2 separate regions of the Homo sapiens genome follow, and region 2 is linked to region 1. A link means that fine-mapping ties the variant in region 1 to the expression of a gene that starts in the linked region. Tissue or cell type: whole blood. Region 1 holds a variant in brackets; the other region holds the start of a gene. All regions are shown on one strand. Distances are from middle to middle.

Region 1 (8,101 bases):
CTGACAGGTGACACCCAGGTGGGTGGATGCCCAGGGTAGCCTCAAGGCCCCTGAGTGGTCTGGGCGGTTTTCTGGGGGTATGGGTCAAGTTCTCAAAGGGGTCGGGGAGCTGGGGATGGTCAGCAGCGGGGCCTGGGTGGAGTTGGGGAGCTGGGAGGTCCCAGGCTCTGCTCCTGACAGGCTGGGGCCTCCCCTCCTTGGCTCCATGCCTCGAAGCTGCCGGGGTGGGACGGGGACGACGGAGCTAACCCAGGCAGAGGAAGAGCCGTGCATATCATTCTTTCGCTAACACGGAGCCAACGCAGGCTCCACGGGGACAGGAGCCAGACCCTCACTGGACGCACATGGGCCCTCACTGTGGCCTGCAGAGCAAGCAGTCATCCCATTTGATGGGTGAGGAAACTGAGGCACAGCAAGCTCTCATGGCTGGCTGGGAGCTCTGGGCTTGTGACCACAGCATCTGAAGGCTGGGCTCTTCTCTGGGGGGTGGGGGGACTCTACCACTGTCATCGTGTAACCTCCAGAGGAACCACTTCTCAGCAGTGCAGACACTCCCGACCCCCAAGGGCTGGGTCTGGGGACATGTTATAAGTGTTTTGTTTTCTTTGTGAGATGGGGTCTCACAATGTTGCCCCTGCTGGTCTTGAAACCCTGGGCTCAAGCCATCTGCCTGCCTCCCAAAGAGCTGGGATCCCAGGCGTGAGCCACTGTGTCCGGCCACATTTTAGGTTAAGGCCATAAAAGCTTGAGCGCTTCTGGATCCCACACTGGGGTGGGGCCTGCTGTAGGCTGCAGGGCAGGTGGGCCTCGGCCTGGCACCCTCCCTGGCCCTGCCTGCCCAGGCCGAGCCCTCACCACGCAGTCCCACCTGCCACCCTCCCTCCCCGGCCGGGGCCGAGCCCTCACCAGGCAGTCCCGCTGCAGCGTCTTGACCAGGGCGCTGAAGGTGTCGGCGTCCAGCAGGAGCCCCTCGGGCATGTCCTGCATGAAGTCCAGGTCCTTGTAGGTGGGGAAGCTCTTCTCCTTCTCCTTCTTGCTGGCGCGCCGCTTGTAGGTGGAGCCCTTGAGGTCGAACTTGAGGTGCATCTTGACCACGCGGGGCAGGATGTTGTTCATGACCACGACGCGGATGTTCTTGCCCCCCGACTGCACGCAGTACAGCCCATAGAACTTGGGCAGCAGCGTCCGCGGGTTCTGGTTGAGGTTCTGCCGGGGGAAGAGGGCAAGTCGTGGAGGGCGGCTGGGCCACAGACTCACGGGGGCGGGCAAAGCAGGCCTCTGCCTCAGGGGGCTCATGGATGCCCCTGGCCAGCCCCCCTCTCTCCCCAGAAGCCCTCGGGGACCCCGTTCCTATGCAGGCACCCAGCTGGCCTTCCCACGGCACCCTGACTCTCATGGGCCACAACTGTGAGCTCCAGGAGGGTCTGTTTCTACAGAGCCAGGCCCCAAGGCAGGCGCTTCTGTTCCAGCAGAAGCTTCCACACTCCCTGCCTGCCCACAGACATCGCCCTGGCTGGGCTCGCCTGTTGGGAGGTCTGGAGGCCGGAAACGCAATGCTGTATCCTAAAATACATACATGTATGTATATGCACACACAAACACATACACACACACGCACACACACATGTATTTTCTTGAGACAGGGTCTCGCTCTGTCGCCCAGGCTGGAGTGCAACGGTGCGATCACAGCTCACTGCAGCCTCCACCTCCAGGGCTCAAACCATCCTCCCACCTCAGCCTCCGAAAGTGCCAGGACTCCAGGCGTGAGCCCAGCCTCTATGTTGGTTATGCTTTGCCTGTGTTGAACTGATCAACTCAGACTTTCACTCCAAATCTGGGTCCCCAGGCGCAGTGACGAGTCTGGGTCCTGCTGTACCCTGTAGACCCCAAGCAGGCACTGGGTGACTCAGGGGCACCCAAGTGAAGCAACAGCGCCCCCTGCCCAGAGCCTCTCAATGACGAACCCAGTGGGAAGCTGCCCAGGTGTCGGGGCTGAGACAGACCCACAGGGAGAGGAGTGAGGGGCGCGGACTCAGGCACCAGCCTGGGCAGGCTAGGTGAACTCCAGCCCCTGGGCCGAATCCGGCCACCACCTATTTTTGTAGGGCTGTGAGCTAAGAATGGTTTTTCCATTTTTAAAAAGTGGAAAGGGCCCAGTGCGATGGCTCATGCCTGTAATCCTAGCACTGTGGGAGGCCGAGGCGGGCGGATCACCTGAGGTCAGGAGTTTGAGACCAGCCTGGCCAACATGGTGAAACCCCGTCTCTATTAAAAATAAAAATTAGCTGGGAGTGGTGGCGCATGCCTGTAATCCCAGCTGCTTGGGAGGCTGAGGCAGGAGAATCACTTGAACCTAGGAGATGGAGGTTGCAGTGAGCCGAGATTGTGCCATTGCATTCCAGCCTGGGCAACAGAGCCAGACTCCATCTCAAAAGAAAAAAAAAAAAAAAGGCCAAGCACAGTGGCTCACATCTATAATCCTAGCACTTTGGGAGGCCAAGGCAGGCAGATCATGAAGTCAGGAGACCAGCTTGACCAACACGGTGAAACCCCATCTCTACTAAAAATACAAAAATTAGCCAGGCGTGGTGGTAGGTGCCTGGAATCACAACTACTCAGGAGGCTGAGGCAGCAGAATCGCTTGAACCCAGGAGGCGGAGCTTGCAGTAAGCCAAGATCACGCCAATGCACTCCAGCCTGGGTGACAGAGCGAGACTCCATCTCAAAAAAAAAAAAAAAAAAAAAAATGAAGAGGCCAGGCGCGGTGGCTCACGCCTATAATTCCAACACTCCAGGAGGCCGAGACAGGCAGATCACGACATCAGGAAATCGAGACCATCCTGGCTAACACGGTGAAACCATGTCTCTACTAAAAATATAAAAAAATAGCCAGGCGTGGTGGCGGGCGCCTGTAGTCCCAGCTACTCGGGAGGCTGAGGCAGGAGAATGGCTTGAACCCAGGAGGGGGAGGCTGCAGTGAGCCAAGATGGCACCACTGCACTCCAGCCTGGGTGACAGAGCGAGACTCCGTCTCAAAACATAAATAAATAAATAAAAAAGTGGAGAAATAGAAAATAGTCTTTGATGACACGTGAAAGTGATATGGAATTCGCATTTCTTGGTCCATAAATAATGCGTATGGGCACATGGCCGCGCCCATCCATTCTCATGTGGTCACAGCAGCTCGCTGCCATCCAGGCAGAGCTCAGTCCTGGAGACACAGCACACTGGCTCGCAGAGCCAAAAACACTCTCTCTGGGCCTTTAAAGACTGAGTTTGCTGAGCCTGATCTAAGGAGCCCGGGCCCCTCGCTAAGCATCACAGAGAGTGGATGGAGGAGGCCTCAAGGGAAACTGAGTCACAGGCTGTGCTGTGCTGCCCAGGGCCGGGCAGCAGCTTGGGCCTGGCAACATGGAAGGCGCCCACCTCGTCTGGGCGAGTACCGGAATCCCAGGCCCAGGAACACTGTGGCAGCCGCCGGCTCCTACTCCTACTCCCCCCTCCCGGGGCCTGACGCACCCTTTCTGTGAGTCATGCGGGATGAGGGGTGGGCCGGATGGAGCTGCCTCACGCCTGCCTGAGCAGCTGGTCTTTTGTGGGGTACCATCTGGTGGCCCATCCCCCTCCTCTCTGGAACCCTCTGAGTCACCCTTGGGCCCCTTGGGCCTCCGTGGCAGCTGACAGACGCTGCCCGCAGGCTGCTGGTTCTGGGGCCCACGGCTCATAGGGGGTGTTGGCAAGGTGGGGATGGGGAGCCAGGCAGGGGCCGGTGCCCACCCAGCCCTGCCCGGGGACGGCCCCCAAGGCGTGTGGCCACAGGAGGAAGAGAGGGCGGCTCCTGAACACTGGTGCTGGTGAAGCCTGACGGGGGACCCCCGAGGGTGAGTCCCCGGGACCCAAGATGCCTCTCACCACGCCCCAAGGATGCCTGCTTGCCCAAGCCTTGCAGACATCTGCTCCCGCCAGCCGGGAGAAGGGGGTTGACCGAGGAGCCATCTGCCCCGCAGGGCGGGCCACGCACCATGTAGTAGCCAGGGAGCAGCTTCTGCAGGAACTCGGCCTCCTTGTGCATGACGGTCTTGATGATGAACTCGTCGTCGCTGGTGACGTAGAAGAGGGAGCCACTGGCGCCCGGGTTGGACAGCTCGATCAGCGGCTCATTGCACAGGGAGTACTGGAAGCAGAGGAGGCGGGTCAGCGGGCCCCAAGCTGCCGGACACACAGACAGCACTGGCTTCCGGTCTGCCCAACAGC[C/T]CCAGGAACTGATGACGGGTCGCTGCATTTTACAGATGCGGAAAGAGAGGCTCAGAGAGGGCGAGAGACTTGCCTGAGGCTAGCCAGCAAGGACTGGAGCCTGAGGCCGAGCTGACTCTGCAGCCCGAGGGCTGGTCTGCTAGGGCGCACTCCCCAGGCTGCCTGCTGCTCTCCTTAGGAGCGGACACCTGATCGCACCGGGGTGCTGACGCGCGTGGCTAAAAGGTGCTCCCAGCACCCCTGAAGCTGGGTGGGGCCACAACGCCAGCTCTGCCCCATGAGTCATAAGCAGAAGCTGTCAGGTGGAACTCAGGGAAGGCTCCACAGATGGGCGACAGGCAGCTGGCATACCTGCGTATTTGCCCTTCTCTCCTTCCCACCTATTTCCCTCCTGAGATGCTGATGTGATGGCTGGAACCTCAGCAGCCACACTGGACTAGAAGGTAAGCTCTGGGATGGAAGCTGCATCTCTGATGGGCAGGCCCCACTCTGGCCCCTGGCACCCCACAGTCCAAGCCCTTCCTCCCCACTTCTCTGCCCCTTTTTCTCAGCCCCTGCTGTTTGTTTCATGATGTGCTCGCTGTCTCTCTGCCCCCACGCCCTCTCCTGGACATTAGGCAGAAGGTCCGTGCAGGTGGAAGTTTTTTTGTGTCACTGACTCGACAGGTGCTCGATTTGCTAAGGACTAGAATGAAGATGAGACCCACGGGTGCTACCCTGCGTCTTCCGGGTATGGAACCAATGAAGTGTGCATGGGGCTAAGGCCATCTGTGTCACGCCCTTTAAAATCCTAACTGGTCGCCATTGGTGTACACGGATGAGGTCAGAGCCAGCTCCCCATCAGCGGAGCAAGCCAGGCCCCCCAGGGTCAACGCTGGGTCCGTATCTGCTGGACGACAGAAGGGTGGTCTCCGAGTGCTGCGTGCCGCCTCCAATGCTGCTGTGATAAACAGGTGGGGGGTGTCCACGAGAGTCAGGAGTGGTGGCGAGCAGAAGCGAGGGGAGGCCAGGCACGGCGGCTCACCCAGCACTCTGTAATCCCAACACCTTGGGAGGCTGAGGAGGATCATTTGAGCCCAGGAGTTCAAGACCAGCCTGGGCAACAGAGCGAGGCCTCATCTGTACTAAAAAAAAAAAAGAAAGAAAACAAAAACAGGCATGGTGATGCCCATCTGTGGTCCCAGCTACTTGGGAGGCTGAGGTGGGAGGATCACTTGAGCCCAGGAGGTCAAGGCTGCTGTGAGCTGTGACAGCGCCACTGCCCTCCAACCTGGGCAACAGAGCAAGAGTGTTTAAAAAAACACCCCAACAAGTGAGGGGAACCACCTTTGGAAAATGCTGGAAGAGCCAGGGGCTTGAGGCGTGAGTTGGGTCCCCAGCGCCACACACACTCTGATCTGTGAATATGTTTGGGGACCAGAGGACGCCGGAAACATGAGGTCACATCAGGCCCAGGGCCTGGGAATGCCCCAGTCCCTCCTTGGGCTCAAGTCACCACCCCCGCCCTGCACTGCCCGAGGTGCTCTCGGGCCAGGGAACGGCGCCATCAGTTATCACACGTCGGTCAACACAGGCTGGATTTTGCGGAGTCAGCAACAGCCCTGCCAACCTTGGCAGCTCAGAACAGCGAGGGTCCTTCCTCCTGCATGCGCTGCTTCTGCCATGGCCTGGCTGGGAGTGATGGTGCAGGGTGAGAGAGCCGTGTGGGGTGGACTCTGAGGCTGGAGGGAGATCTGTCCAGGCCACTGCTGTCGCCCAGCCCAGCCATCTGCCTGCCTTTTTCTGCCCACAGCCACGAGCCACAAATATCCACAGGAAACACAGAGCCCACGCGGCTCCTCCGCCTTCCCCGCCACGGCAGGACGCCCTCCAGCCTCCCAGACACAGGCGCAGCAGCGCAGAGCGAAGGCGGGTCTCTCCTGGGGCTGGCGCCCTCCCTGGGAGGCCAGGGGACCCCGCCAAGCCCTGGGCCGCTGTCCTCAGGTCACCCGGAGCAGGGGACACCCCAAGCAGCCGGAGTGTCCCTCCGAGACACAAATCACTGCTGCCTGTCCACGGTGGCAGGAGGGGGAGGCCGATCTCACCTGCAGAGCGGAAAACACTGTGGAAAGGGCACGTTCGGCTTTGTACAAAGAACACCGATGACAGGGAAATTCTGAAGCCACATGACTAATGGCAGTTGCAGGGCTATGGCCTCCATGGGCCTCAGCTGCTACGGGGAAGCAGGCCCCATGCGTGGATTTCTGAGCCAGGCAGTGCCAGGACAACCCCCCACAGCCTCCTTCGTCGGTGCTGGGGCTCTCGGCAGCTGCGCCGCTGACCTTGGCCTCCTCTCCACCCTCTGCTGACCACTGGGCAGGGCTGAGCCCCACCCTGCATCCCACCTCCGCCTTCTCCTTCCTGGCTGTCCTGAGCTGTGGGCCTTCCTGGAGCTACCCCCCTTACCAGGGGGGACTGTGACCTCAGCTGTCCAATCAGAGAAGCACCGGCAACCTCGAGTCCCCTCCGAACCCTACCTGTCCCCACTCAAGCTCAGGGGCCCTGTGGACAGCAACACGCACACTAGCCCGTCCTCCCGCTGTGGCACACGGCCACACTCACACCACAGCCTGGACAGAGGCTAGGGGGCTGCCGCCTGCTCAGCACCGGAGGCCCCCAAGAGAATTCTCACACTCCTGAGATGAGCAGAAGGATTCGGGGGTCACCAACACCGGGCTGGCTCCCCAGATGCTGTGGGTGCACACCTGGCCTAAGGCCCTGGAATGCGATCTTATCGGGTTCTAGGTGAGACCCAGATGGCCCCAGATCGGCTTTTATCCGTCCACTCCTGCTAATGGACACGGGTGCTGTCTCTCTGCTACGAGCCAGGCTGCTGCCTTCTGTTCCTGGCCGCCTCACACGGTAGCGTCCAGGTCACCCGAGGGCCATTTCTAGGCAAAAACCCCAGCTGTGTTTTCACTCCCCACTGCCCTGCCAAGCTCAGGCAAACGCTGGGACACTGAAGTCCGGAGGCTGGGCCTTGGCGACACGACCCGGAGCATGGTGACTCCCGGGCACCTGAACAGGCTGGAGTTCTCGGGGCGGGGGAGGGGGGGGTGTCACACGTACCCCTGGCTGGAGCACATGCTAGTTCTCCCTGGAAGAGCGCAGCCTCGGGCGCTTCCTACAGACTGAGATAAACCAAACGCACGCACAGTCAGCAACCACCAAAGAAAGGCACAAGGAACCGACCACCGCGGGTGAGGGCAGGATCGGAGAACCACAGGCTCCCGGCCCCGGGGACCGTGCTGTCGTGACAACCAGAACGCCAACCGCACTTGTCTACAGAGTTCCAGTCTTCCCTGATACAAAGTTCTCGGGATGACCAGGCAGGCTTGGGAAAAGGCCACCCGGAGCTTTTAGAAGTGGTGATGGCGCAGGTTGGATGCCGGGGCTCACGCCTGGAATCCCAGCACTTCGGGAGGCTGAGGCGGTAGCTCACGCCTCTAATCCCAGCACTACGGGAGGCTGAGACAGGCAGATCACGAGGTCAGGAGATCGAGACCATCCTGGCTGACACGGTGAAACCCCGTCTCTACTAAAAATACAAAAAATTAGCCGGGCGTGGTGGCAGGCACCTGTAGTCCCAGCTACTCGGGAAGCTGAGGCAGGAGAATGGCGTGAACCCAGGAGGCGGAGCTTACAGTGAGCCGAGATCGCACCACTGCACTCCAGCCTGGGCGACAGAGCGAGACTCTGTCTCGAAAAAAAAAAAAGGGGGTGCTGGCGCTGATGAGCTCCAGGGCCACTGTGGGGAGCACCACCCTCCAAACACCTCTTTTAGGAGCCCGGATAATGGGCTGCTAGG
Region 2 (8,092 bases), 45 kb after region 1:
AGAGGAGGACCAAGCTGGACTGGGGAGGACTGAGCCGGATGGAGGAGGACTAAGCTGGACCGGGGAGGACCGAGCTGGACCCGGGAGGACCGAGCCAGATGGAGGAGGACCAAGCCGGATAGAGGACCGAGCCGGATGGAGGAGGACTGGGCCGGACGGAGGAGGACCGAGCTGGACCGGGGAGGACCGAGCCAGACAGAGGAGGACTGAGCCAGACGGAGGAGGACTGAGCTGGACCGGGGAGTACTCAGCCAGACGGAGGAGGACCGAGCTGTACGGAGGAGGACCGAGCTGGACCGAGGAGGACCGAGCTGGACCGGGGAGGACCGAGCTGGACCAGGGAGGACCAAGCTGGACCCGGGAGGACCAAGCTGGACCCGGGAGAGGCAGAGGACAGGGAAGGAGTCAGTGGGTTCTGGGCCAGTTCTGAAGGTGAAGCTGCCATCATTTGCTGCCAGATCAGCCGTGGAAGTGGGGCAGGGGCAGGGATGCAGCTGACCTTTCCAGGGCATCACAGAGACAGATCAGCCGTGGGAGTGGGGCAGGGGCAGGGATGGAGCTGACCGTTCTGGGGCATCACAGAGACAGGACAGCCTGGGAGAGGCTCAGACACGCCCAGGCCACAGCTCAGACCAAACTCCACCACAGGCCATCGGCCCACACAGTGGGCACAGCCGCATCCCAAGCCCCGGCCTTCCCGAGACCGCCCCCACGTGCCCCACGGCCACGGCCCATGGAGACGCCATTCAGGCCACGCCTCGGGAGCCAGGAGCCCAGGCAATTAGAGGAACCAAATTCTAAACACCAACGAGACATTGCTTTGCCTCCCATCGGATCAGCCGAAATCGCCAAGGACGATGACACTGGGAGCTGGCAGTGCCGTGGGAAACGGGCAGCCTCCCTCGGCCCCTGTCGGACAAGGCTCCCGCTGTAGCTGAGCTTTCTGGAAGGTGTCGCCATCGCTTCTAACAGTGAGCGGTGACTCCAGAAACCACGGGCATGGGCCTCAGCAGGGGCCTGGAGGCACCGATGGTGGAGAGGCCGGAAAGGGGTGGCCAACCGGCACGACAATCACCAAGCACGAGCGCCAACTCATCCCAGGCTCAGCCCCTAGCACACACGGTCATCACCCCACTTCACAGACGGGACGCTGAAGCCCGGGGAAGTGACGGCCACACAGCACCTGAAGCGCGGAGCTGGGAGGGGGACATCGGCGGGACCAACTCTGGGGCTCCCCCTTAACCACTGCCTGGCGCTCGCCCTCTCTACAAACCGATACCAACATAGGGTGGGGAGACTCCAGATGACCAGAGATAAAAAGCAAGCAGTTCACAGAGTCATAAACGTGTGGCATTTCTCACCAGGGCCGTCCTGCCCCCAGGGGACACTGAACGGTGTCTGGGTCACTTGTGGCTGTCACAACTGGCAGGTGCTCCTGGCATGGAGTGGGCAGAAGCCAGGGGCGTTGCTCAGCACCCCTAATTTCCTGACTCAAAATACCTCTGCCAAGGCACAGAAGCCCCAGTGAGGCATGAAACCATCTCGGTGAAGAACAAGCAGGCCCCTTTATGTGCTCACGTCTCTGTGGCCCAGCCAGGCACAACCTAAACTCACCAGCGCTAACATCAGGAGGGATGGCGTTGGAGGAGTGAGGCAACTCTGAATTTTAAACATTCAGAAGCAGTATATGGCCAGCTGGGGTCAGATTTCTGTGGATTTCAGGGATGGGCAGAGATGCCAGACCCTGACCTTCCAGCCCTCCCCGGCCCCCCACCCCCACCCCCCCACTCCCCCGCTCTCCCACCCCACCACCATGCTCAGTCTGGAGCTGGCAACTTTATCTGTCCCCGGTGCTCCCAGAGCCCCTGATAAGATGAATGGTCGCGGTGTGGTTTTCTTTTGGTCAGCGAGTCCTGGGCTACTTTGTCTCTGACCAGCTGGGGTCAGAGGGCTGACAGCGGAAGTTGGGGGGCCCAAGAAAGGAACCCGGGCTGGGGCCTGGTGCCCTGCCTGGGTTCCTCCACCATGTCTCTTGCTGGCCAGGCCAGGACACCGGCTGCCCGCAAAGAAAGGGGCGAGGCCACTGGCTCTGGGGAAGGAACCGGGTCACCTACCAAGCGGTTCCAGATGGCCGCCGGGAGGGAAGCCACGAGTGTCTTTCAAGGCGGGGGGTGGGGGGGGGACTTGATGACTTCCACACTCTCTCTCTCTCCAGACATCTCCCCAACTCCCAGGCAGCACGCATCGCCCGCCCGCCCGCTTGCCCGCCTGCCAACCAAGGAAGCTTCGGGAGGCCTGGGGGGAGAAGGAGGACGGATGCCCGTGTGGGTGTCTACAGAGACGCTGCTGCTGGCTGCCTGGGAGGAGCAGAGGATTTTGTGAATCCGGAAACTTCCGATTTGGGAGCTTGTGACCTCGACTGAGAAGGAACTGTTCCCTTCCTCTGGGCTCTGCACACCGTCCCCACAGAAGGGAAGGCCCAGCTGCCGCCACCTACCCGGCTGGAGGTCCAGGAAGCAGCTAAAGGGGGCATGAGACAGCCGTGCCCCCCGCCCAGCCCGCAGCCCCACCAGTGTGTCCTGGGGGAAGGCTCGGGGAGAGGAAAAGGGGGCGACAGGGCACCCTGTGTGCACAGCCGGGGCGGTGGAGGCATCTTGAGATGTAACCCTTTTCCTCCCCTCATTTTAGCAGGGAGGTAAACTGAGGCCCAGGAAGGTGAGGAAAGGTCGCGCACCCGGACTCAGGTCTGGGGACTTACAGAAAGGGAGGTGACATCAGGAGGTGGGCACGCACGGCCTCAGAGACCCCCGCCTCCACCCAAGCAGCCGCCACTCACACGACGGGCAGCCCCTGGGAGCGGGTCAGGCAGAACGGGGATCCCCAGCGGCGCCCACGCCGAGTCGCCCCCGGCCCGGGAGCGGTGGGAGGTAGCCCCTCGCAGGCCTCCCGCTTCCCGGCGCGGCTTCAGCCCCGTCCTCCCCGCGGCTCCAGGGGACTGCCCCGCCCCAGGCTCCTGGAACCGGCGGCGCCCCCGCAGCGACCGTGCAGCCCCCGCCCCGGCCCCGCAGCCCCGCGACTCTCGGCGCTCGGACGAGCCCAGCGGGCCGCAGCCCCGGGAGGCCGGGCCGTTACCTGCCGCCGCCCCGCTCTCTGCCGCCCACGCCGCCTCCGAGGGCACGGCCCCCGCCTCAGCGCTCTCCGCCTCGTCCGGTACCTCCAGCTCCATGGCCGCGCGCGGACGGCGGCGGGGGCGCCCGAGGGGGACCCGAGCTGCGACCGCCGCCGCCGAACAACAAGCGCCGCCGGCCAAGGGAGGGCGCGCCGGGCCGGCGCGGGGCGGACGGGGCGGGGCCTGCGTGCGTGCGACGCCGCGGACGGCGCGCGGCCAATCGGGGCTCGGGGGCGGGGCCTGCTTGCGACCCGCAGCCAGGAGCGCCTCGAGTGCCCCCTCGCGCCCAGGGGTGGGAGTACAGAGCCAGGCTCGCCATTCCATCGTATTAGGTCAGTAAGATTGACAGGCACGATACGTATCAATAACATTGCTGTGCACAACACATACCAATAACATGGATCTACACAACACATGACAATAATATGGATCTATACAGCACGTGCCAATAATATGGATGTACACAGCACATGCCAATAACATGGATCTAAACAGCACATGCCAATAACAGGGACCTGCACAGCGCATGACAATAACATGGATCTGGCCGGGCGCGGTGACTCACGCCTATATTCCCGGCACTTTGGGAGGCCGAAGAGGGCGGATCACCTGAGGTCAGGAGTTCAAGACCATCCTGACCAACATGGTGAAATCCTGTCTCTACTAAAAATACAAAAAATAGCTGGGCGTGGTGGCACATGCCTGTAATCGCGGCTACTCGGGAGGCTGAGGCAGGAGAATCGCTGGAACCCAGGAGGGAGAGGTTGCAGTGAGCTGAGATCGCACCATTGCCCTCCAGCCTGGGCCACAGAGTGAGACTCTGTCCCAAAAAAAACCACACATGGACCTACACAGCACATGCCAATAACATGGAGTTACCCAATGCATGCCAATAACATGGATATACACAATACATGCCAATAACACGGATATGCACAATACATGCCAATAACATGGATATACACAATACATGCCAATAACATGAATCTATACTATATCATTGACATGGATCTACATAAAACATACAAATAGCATTGCTATATGCAATACATGCCAATCACATTGCTATACACAATGAATACCAATAACATTGATCTACACAATACATGTAACTAACATTGATACACACACTACATGTCAATAACATTGATATACACACTACATGCCAATAACATGGATATACACACTACATGCCAATAACATTGATATACACACTACATGCCAATAACATTAATGTACACACTACATGTCAATAACATTGATATACACACTACATGTCAATAACATTGATATGCACAAAATATACCAATAACAGTGATATACACAGTACATGTAAATAATATTGATCTACACAGGGCCGGGCGCGGTGGCTCATGCCTGTAATCCCAAGACTTTGGGAGGCCGAGGCGGGCGGATCACGAGGTCAGGAGATTGAGACCATCCTGGTTAACATGGTGAAACCCCGTCTCTACTAAAAATACAAAAAATTAGCCAGGCGTGGTGGCGGGCGCCTGTAGTCCCAGCTACTTGGGAGGCTAAGGCAGGAGAATAGGGTGAACCTGGGAGGCAGAGCTTGCAGTGAGCTGAGATCGTGTCACTGCACTCCAGCCTGGGCAACAGAGCGAGACTCCATATCAAAAAAAAATATATATATATATAGATCTACACAATACATGTTATTAACATTGATCTACGCAATACATATCAATAACATTTGCAATTAACTACCTGTTTATTATCATATTGCAAATAATATTTATATTCCATCGTTTGTATTACGTAAGTATAGATATGTTATTGTTTTCTTTATATTATTTTATCAATAATAATACAGTTTGCTATTATAAGAAACATATAATTATAGAAATACATAATAAATTATATATATTTATGCAAATGTAAGTAGCAATATTTATATCCTTCTTTTTTTTTTTTGAGATGGAGTCTTGCTGTTGTTGCCCAGGCTGGAGTGCAGGGGGGCGATCTGAGCTCACTGCAACCTCTGCCTCCAGGGTTCAAGTGATTCTCCTGCCTCACCCTCCCAAGTAACTAGGACTACAGGTACGTGCCACCACGCCCGGCTAATTTTTGTATTTTTAGTAGAGATGAGGTTTCGCCATGTTGGCCAGGCTGGTCTTGAACGCCTGACCTCGTGATCTTCCCGCCTCAGCTTCCCAAAGTGCTGGGATTACAGGTGTGAGCCACTGCGCCCGGCCATATTTATGTTCTTTATATAAGCACATAATAAGGCTTATGTTGTTTATGTTAATTTAAGTAATAACGTTTATATTATTTACATAAATGTAAATCATAATGATTATATTACCTATGCACATAAATAATGTTTGGGGTGGGCACAGAGGCTCCCGCCTGTAATTCCAGCACTTTGGGAGGCCAAGGCAGGAGGATTACTTGAGCTCAGGAGTTCTAGACCAGCCTGGGTAACATAGTGAGCCCTCTCATCTCTACAAAAAAAATTTTTTTAATTAGCTAGGTGTAGTGAGACCCCTCATCTTTACAAAAAAAATTGTTTTTTAATTAGCCAGCTACTTAGTAGGCTAAGGTGGGAGGACTGCTTGAGCCCGGGAACTCAAGGCTGCAGTGAGCTATGATCGCACCACTGCACTCTGGCCTGGGCAACAGAGAAAGACCCCGTCTGTCCCCGCAAAAAAAAAAAACAAACAAAAAAAACAAAAAGACAAATTCTGTGTGGTTCCACTCCTAGGAGGTCCCTAGAGTTGTCACATTCACAGAGACAGAAAGTAGGATGGGGGGTGCCAGGGGCTTGGGGGGAGACGAGGAGTGAGTGTTTCACAGGGGCAGACTTCCAGTCTCAGAAGATGAGAACATTCTGGAGATGATGGCGGTGATGTTTGCACAGCCATGGGAATGTGCTTAAGGCCACGGAGCTGTGCTCTTAGACATGGTGAAAATGGGCCGGGCGCGGGGGCTCACACCTGCAATCCCAGCACTTTGGGAGGCCGAGGTGGGCGGATTACCTGAGGTCGGGAGTTCAAGACCAGCCTGACTAACATGGAGAAACCCCGTCTCTACTAAAAATACAAAATTAGCCAGGCGTGGTGGCGCGTGCCTGTAATCCCAGCTACTCGGGAGGCTGAGGCAGGAGAATCACTTGAACCCGAAAGGCAGAGGTTGCAGTGAGCCAACATGGCACCACTGCACTCCAGCCTGGGCGACAGAGCAAGACTCTGTCTCCAAAAAAAAAAAAAAAAAAAAAAGAAGAAGAAGAAGAAGAAAGAAATGGTGAAAATGGGCCGGGTGCGGTGGCTCACGCCTGTCATCCCAGCACTTTGGGAGGCCGAGGCTGGCAGATCACCTAAGGTCAGGAGTTCAAGACCAGCCTGGTCAATGTGGTGAAACCCTGTCTCTACTAAAAATACCAAAAAATTAGCTGGGCATAGTGGCACAGGCCTATAATCCCAGCTACTCGGGAGGCTGAGGCAGGAGAATCACTTGAACCTGAGAGGCAGAGGTTGCAGTGAGCCAACATGGCACCACTGCACTCCAGCCTGGGCAACAGAGCAAGACTCGAAAAAAAAGAAATGGTGAAAATTGTGAATTGTATGTTGTGCGTATTTTACTACCATTTTTTGTTTTTTCTTTTTTGAGATGAGTCTTGCTCTGTTACCCAGGCTGGAGTGCAGTGGCGTGATCTCGGCTTACTGCAGCCTCTGCCTCCCAGGTTCAAGCGATCCTCCCACCTCAGCCTCCCAAGTAGCTGAGACCACAGGTGTGTGCTACCATACCTGGCTAATTTTTGTAATTTCAGTAGAAATGGGATTTCACTGTGTTGGCCAGGCTGGTGTCAGGTGATCTGCCCACCTCGGCCTCCCAAAGTGTGAGGATTACAGGCGTCAGCCACTGCAGGCGGCCTTGACCATTTTAAGGCTCCAGGAAGAGTTCTTTGGACGCAGGTCATGGACAGAGCTCCTGATTCACCCAGAATCTGTTTTGAAAAAAGATTTAGACCACTGGCTCTCAAGGTGTGGTCCCTGGGCCAGCCACATCAGCCTCACCCTGGGAGCTTGTTAGAAATGCAGGTTCCAAAGCCAGGTGCAGTGGTTCATGCCTGTAATCCCAGTGCTTTGGGATTGAGGCTGAGGCAGGAGAATCACTTTAGCCCAGGAGTTCAAGACCAGCCTGGGCAACATAGCAAGATCCCATCTCTACAAAACAAATTAAAAATTAGTCTGGCGTGGCCAGATGCAGTGGCTCACGCCTGTAATCCCAGCACTTTGGGAGGTTGAGGCAGGTGGATCGCCTGAGGTCAGGAGTTCGAGACCAGCCTGACCATCACGGAGAAACCCTGTCTCTACTAAAAATACAAAAATTAGTCGGGCATGGTGGCGCATGCCTGTAATCCCAGCTACTTAGGAGGCTGAGGCAGGAGAATTGCTTGAACCCGGGAGGCAGAGGTTGCAGTGAGTCAAGATCTCGCCATTGCGCTCCAGCCTGGGCAGCAAGAGCGAAACTCCTCTCAAAAAAACAAAAATAGCCTGGCATGGTGGTGCACACCTGTAGTCCCAGCTACTTGGGAGGCTGAGGTGGGAGGATCGCTTGAGCCCAGAAGTTTGAAGCTGCAGTGAGCTATGATCACACCACTACAGTCCAGCCTGGGCAACAGAGCGAGACCTGGTCTCAAAACAAACAATGAAAAGTAAAAGAAATGCAGGTTCCTAGGCCCCCACCCAGACTTCACACACCAGAAACTGGGCAGAGTAGGGTGGTGGGAGGGCACAATCTGGGTGTTCATGACTCCTCCCTTCCAGGCAAACTGGGTGCCAGATAAAGTTTGGGGGAAGGGGCCAGCCACGGTGGCTCATACCTGTAATCCCAGCACTTTGAGAGGCCAAGGTGGGCGGATCACTTGAGGTCAGGAGTTCGAGACCAGCCTGGCCAACA

The links. PIP is the estimated chance that this variant, and not a neighbour inherited with it, causes the effect.
Region 2: PIP5K1C starts here. The variant in region 1 is fine-mapped to the expression of PIP5K1C in whole blood (TOPMed, PIP above 0.99).

What each region holds. Positions count from the first base shown.
Region 1 is chr19:3,652,384-3,660,484 of GRCh38, forward strand. PIP5K1C (phosphatidylinositol-4-phosphate 5-kinase type 1 gamma) reads right to left here. Exons shown (of 18, transcript NM_012398.3): 6 at 4,022-4,174; 7 at 907-1,206. Among named protein-coding and RNA genes, the nearest start is that of CACTIN, 30 kb to the left of the region's middle. RefSeq lists silencers at 3,724-3,833, 3,854-3,903. The variant C/T (reference allele first, on the strand shown) is at 4,255.
Region 2 is chr19:3,697,165-3,705,256 of GRCh38, forward strand. PIP5K1C (phosphatidylinositol-4-phosphate 5-kinase type 1 gamma) reads right to left here and starts at 3,304. Exons shown (of 18, transcript NM_012398.3): 1 at 3,133-3,304. The coding sequence starts at 3,226. RefSeq lists an enhancer at 2,361-3,144 and silencers at 2,843-2,982, 3,063-3,552.